Linked DNA regions of Homo sapiens: region 2 is linked to region 1. The links come from fine-mapping of genetic effects on gene expression. A gene starts in region 1. The other region holds a variant in brackets. All regions are shown on one strand. Distances are between the middles of the regions. Region 1 holds the start of ANXA10 (annexin A10). Region 2 overlaps PALLD (palladin, cytoskeletal associated protein).

What was found.
Region 2: its variant is fine-mapped to the expression of ANXA10 in pancreatic islets (PISA, PIP 0.93).

Annotation. Positions count from the first base shown.
Region 1 is chr4:168,091,030-168,093,963 of GRCh38, forward strand. ANXA10 (annexin A10) reads left to right here and starts at 1,508. Exons shown (of 12, transcript NM_007193.5): 1 at 1,508-1,689. The coding sequence starts at 1,672. LOC124900170 (a long non-coding RNA gene) reads left to right here and starts at 1,708. Exons shown (of 2, transcript XR_007058357.1): 1 at 1,708-2,934.
Region 2 is chr4:168,576,467-168,579,400 of GRCh38, forward strand. All of the region lies in intron 2 of PALLD (palladin, cytoskeletal associated protein), which reads left to right. All of the region lies in intron 1 of LOC124900807 (a long non-coding RNA gene), which reads right to left. Among named protein-coding and RNA genes, the nearest start is that of PALLD-AS1, 71 kb to the right of the region's middle. The variant G/A (reference allele first, on the strand shown) is at 1,407.

The DNA.
Region 1 (2,934 bases):
TTCACATATTTAGTCTCTAATAAAAGCCATAAGACCTGCAACTTACTAAAATAATCATAAAAAATCATTGTAGTTGAAAACTCTTCTATTGTTTCTAATTAAAAAACAATTTTAGTTGAAAATTCTTCTTTTGTTTCTAATTCTGAATCCTATAGTTTTAATAAGTATATCTATTATTTTATAATTGCTATATGCTGTCTACATATAGCAATTATACAATATAAATTATACAATTATAGCAATTATACAATATAAATTATACAATTTTATAATTGCTATATGCTGTCTACATAGCAAAAACACAAGACCCTGATTCATACACAGACACATACACATACATAGTAGGACCTACTAGATTTTAATGTTTTTGAGCCAAGCAGCATGGTTCCATATATCTCTCATAGTACCAGGTATACTGGTAAGGTAATCAGATAATATTATAAATTGAATGCTGAAGAATATATATATATAGTTGCTCATTATATATATATATATTTGTGTTTGTGTGTGTGTGTGTGTGTGTATTACATAAATACATACTGCTTCATGGCTTTTACTCATATTTTAACATCAGAATTATTTTGGGTAGTTCTAGACCTATGGATGCTGATCAGTTGACACTTGTCTTGTTAGTATTTGGTTCTTTCAATAAAGGATTATTTGCTCCTAATTCTTATTCAAAGTATTTTAAAATTTTTATAAATGAACACTATATTGTTCAATAAATAGCAAGTAGCAGTAAAATAATATAATACAGATTCATTTTGTTATTTTTGGAATCATATATGAATGTATCTAGATAGTTTCCAACACTATATTGAACTTTACAGGTTTTTCTAAAATTTATTTCCTTAAAATGCAATAGTTAATATTAAAATTACATATATATAAATATAGGAAAATTAAGTGCAAAAATGATGGTGAATATATTTCTCCAAAGACTTTTATTGGTGGATAATGAATTCTTTTCTAAATATATTTAAAATAATTTTTTTTTAATTTGTGTATTTTTAGTAGAGACGGGGTTTCGCCATGTTGGGCAGCCTGGTCTCGAATTCCTGACCTCAAGTGATCTGCCTGCCTTAGCCTCCCAAAGTGCTGGGATTAGAGGCATGAGCCACCAGGCCCAGCCCCTAAATACATTATTTTTTAATATAAGAGCAGATAAACAGTAGTTGAAATATTCTTTTAAAATTGTATGGATACACATAGAACCTAGCAATTTAAGATAGGAAACTAGGGCTGGAGCACCTGAAAGAGTTTCCATGTTAACAACAATTAAGCAGAAAATAAATGATTAACTTTATGGGTAATCAACTTAGCTTTCCATAAGTCATCAGCTTTTTCAAAAGATTACATTTCTTTCATTAGTTGGCTACTTTATGTGTCTTAAATCAACATACAACTGGGGATTAGGTTAATGGTTCTACTTATTTTGTGCAATAATTCTGCCTACTCACCTATGACTGATAACTAAGTATAAATACAGTATCTCAAGTCATGCTGTATCCAGATTTGCTTTTACATTTTCTTGCCTGAGTCTGAGGTGAACAGTGAACATATTTACATTTGATTTAACAGTGAACCTTAATTCTTTCTGGCTTCACAGTGAAACAAGTTTATGCAATCGATCAAATATTTTCATCCCTGAGGTTAACAATTACCATCAAAATGTTTTGTGGAGACTATGTGAGTATAATGCTTATTTCTGTAAAGCTTTTCACTCTTTTGAAACTTGATTTATAAAATTTCATTTGTGTTTTTTGACGTTTTTAACAGAAAATGTTGTTCTAATTTGTTTTTATTCTTACTACTTTCTTACTATTTTATGCCCATTTTTTGAAAGAAACATTTATAGAATATTTAAATTTTATTTCTGGGATTATTAAACATTACTATGATAACAAGATTTTTTTAATGCAATTATTTGCTATGCTTCTGAAGCAAATAAAGAAAACTGAAGATTAAAGATTTGGATTTGAGCATACCTAAGAATCCATTTAATTAGTGGGTCTTCAATATAACTATTAAACAGAGTTAATATTATGAAATCTTAAATCCATGCTAATTTTGAAACAACGTATTATCCCACAGAGGCAAGTTACTTTCATATGTAATTTGATTCAGAATTCTAACTGAAGTTATCATAAGATTTTTTATCTCGATATTTACTTCTATCTATAAAAAATTAAAATAATTTTGACTATTAATTTTATTTTAAATCCATGCTTTCTGTAAAAGATAGCTTATTTTTGAATAATTTTCTGTTGAATAGAAGCAATGTATAACAAGATTTAGTCTTTTTTTTGGCCTTGTCTGAATCATTTTAGTCCAACTGCTCTAATAGTCATTCACTTTTTAAAAAGCCAACATGAACATTAAGTTGTCTGAATATGCTTTATATGAAAAGGTCTCCATTTCACATGGTCTTGAAAATTATATACAAATGTGAATTTATGCCTTGTGGTCTTAGAAATTATATACAAGTATATGTGTGTTAATGATGATTCTTTACAAATCTATACTATAAAAAAACTTTCAGGAGACTGAGGCAAGAGAATGGCGTGAACCCGGGAGGCGGAGCTTGCAGTGAGCCGAGATCGCGCCACTGCACTCCAGCCTGGGCGACAGAGCGAGACTCCATCTCAAAAAACAAAAAACAACTTTCTGGGAACTTTTATGCAAAAAAATTATAACATAATTATTTTGTTAAACTTTGGCACACAAAACATTGTTTACTCATACAAAGTAATCAATGCAGGAAAATTTTACTTATATATTGTGTTTCTTAAGATAAATACTGAATTAGGACTTAAAAGGCAGCTATTTTCCATCACTGTTAGTTTAACAATCTTAATTTCATCTTAAGATTTCAAGATCTCATTTTGCAGTTGAAAGTTACCATTATTGTTTTATTAATTGTAAGGTGGTTAT
Region 2 (2,934 bases), 490 kb after region 1:
TGAGTGAGAACATGCGGTGTTGTGGTTTTTTGTCCTTGCGATAGTTTGCTGAGAATGATGGTTTCCAGCTTCATCCATGTCCCTACAAAGGACATGAACTCATCATTTTTATGGCTGCATAGTATTCCATGGTGTATATGTGCCACATTTTCTTAATCCAGTCTATCATTGTTGGACATTTGGGTTGGTTCCAAGTCTTTGCTATTGTGAATAGTGCCGCAATAAACATACGTGTGCATGTGTCTTTATAGAGCATGATTTATAATCCTTTGGGTATATACCCAGTAATGGGATTGCTGGGTCAAATGGTATTTCTAGTTCTAGATCCCTGAGGAATTGCCACACTGACTTCCACAATGGTTGAACTAGTTTACAGTCCTACCAACAGTGTAAAAGCAAAACCACAATGAGATACCATCTCACACCAGTTAGAATGGCGATCATTAAAAAGTCAGGAAAAAACAGGTGCTGGAGAGGATGTGGAGAAATTGGCAGCATTTTCTTTCTCTGTGATACATAAAATGATTAGTAGTGATAAATGAAAAACTTCAACCGAATTAAATTTAAAAGAGTTTAATTGAGCAATGAACAATTCATGAATCCGGCAGGCTCGAAGACTCCAGCACAGCCATAAGGTGGAAGAAGATTTATGAACAGAAAAAGGAAAATGATGTACAGAAAATGGAAGTGAGGTACAGAAACAGCTGAATTGGTAACACGTTGATGTTTGCCTTATTTGAACACAGTTTGAATGCTCAGCAGTGTATGAGTGGTTGAAGTATGACTACAGGAATTGGCCAAGACTCAGCTATTGTTATAGACACATACACCTAAGTTAGGCTTTTCAGTCTTTTCTACCGACTAAGTTAGGTTATGGTTTGCCCACAAGGACTCAAATATGGAAATATAGAGTCCTTCTCAGGCCATATTTAGTTTGCTTTAACAGTAGATAAACTATGAGTATTCTTATTTCTATTAAATACAGTATATCAATTTTTAAAGATCTGAAAAAAATGCATGACATTCACAGGATTGTAACATTTGTTAGCACCCATTTAATTCAGGTTTTTCTTACATAGGAAGGATTTAAAATATATCAAAAGTATTTGCAATTTTTATTCTCTAAGAGATTGTTTGTTATGCTGGGGCAGGAGTCAAGAGTAGAGAGGCAATTTGGAAACTGAAAGAAAGGCTAAATTGACCATTACTCAAAAGAGGCCACCAGTTCCAGGGACTCTTGGAGGACCCAAGAGTAGAGAGGCAATTTGGAAACTGAAAGAAAGGCTAAATTGACCATTACGCAAAAGAGGCCACCAGTTCCAGGGACTTTTGGAGGACCTTGGCCAAAGAAAGAAGAAGGGGAATGAAAGGACAAACCCAGCATGCAGCAATGGGCAGCAGAAGAG[G/A]AAAAGAAAACAGCTGAACAGCTGCCTGGAAAGTGGAACTTCGATAAGAGAGGACACATGAATGGGGGCGGGGCGGGGGGAACGTTGTGAATCTCTCATCACTTCCTGGAGAAAATGTTACAAAGACCCATACTACTTTTCAATGTTCTTTCAATTTAATGTGTGCTTCCTTTGGATGCAGGATATACTGAGGCAAAGTAGCCTAGAATATTCACAAACAACTTGTTAATTTGAAATCTGATAATAAATAACATTGGTTTGTTCTACATTATCTTCTAGGGTCAGCAATTTCCCTGGACATACACCTTCCATTAAGTTAGGATTTAAAAAACATCTAATTGTGAATCAAATAGCCCTTACAAAAGCATTTCCAAAATTTGTGTTTGATATGGTTCAGCTGGGTCCCCACCTAACGCTCATCTTGAATTGTAGTTTCCATAATCTTCACGTGTCATAGGAGGGACCCAGTGGGAGGTAATTTAATCATGGGGGTGGTTAACCTCATGCTGTCCTTGTGATAGTGAGTGAGTTCTTACAAGATCTGATGGTTTTATAAGGGGCTTTTCCCCCCTTTTGCGCGGTACTGCTCCTTGCTGCTGCCATGTGAAGAAGGACATGTTTGCTTCCCCTTCTGCCATAATTGTAAGTTTCCTGAGGCTTCCCCAGCTGTGCTGAATGTGAGTCAACTAAACCTCTTTCCTTTATAAATTACTCAGTCTTGGGTATGTCTTTATTAGCAGCATGAGAACAGACTGATACAGTGTTCTAAACAATAAGACTGTGGAAAATGTTTTACATGTGAAGAAAAAAACACAGAGGAGTTAGATAATAGATTGATAGAATAGACAGATGATAGATGATTGATAGATATCATAGGTAGATAAATATGTTGGTAGGTAATATGATAGATCAATGGATAGATAGATAGTCCCAGTGCTTAAAAAAAAACCTATAGTAAAGAAAGTTATTTGTGTTTTTAAACCTATTACTTCCCAAACTCATTTAAAAAGAGAACACTGTTTGAGGCTCACCCATTAACATTTGGTAAACACTATTCTGTAAAATTCCAGTTTGTGTGCTCTGTATGTGTCAATTTCTAGTTTTAACCAACTCCTAGTAGATTTCTATTTTCAAGTAGGGAAAGAGTTTTCACAGGAAAAGAAGAGCATTTGGAGATCAAAGAAAGGGATAAAGGAGACTATCTGAAAATAAGCTTCAGCTCTGTAATTTTGACTAAGGCAGTCCTTGCTTTCAATCCCTAGAAAGTCCTAGTAAATCTCCCACAGTGGGGAGGTCAAGGTAGTTCACCACAATGGCTAATAGTGCCATGTAAAGTGCAGCTATTTGAAAGTTGGTTAATCTCCCTAAACGTCATTTCGTACCTTCATGTAATTCGGGTAAGAATGATGTCTCCTCCAGAGGGACATTGGGGATATTAAATGGAATGTCATATTGAAGCATGCCATAACTAATCAATGACTGTCAGTTGTCATTATTAACAAATGCATCCAATTGCTAAATTTTAATC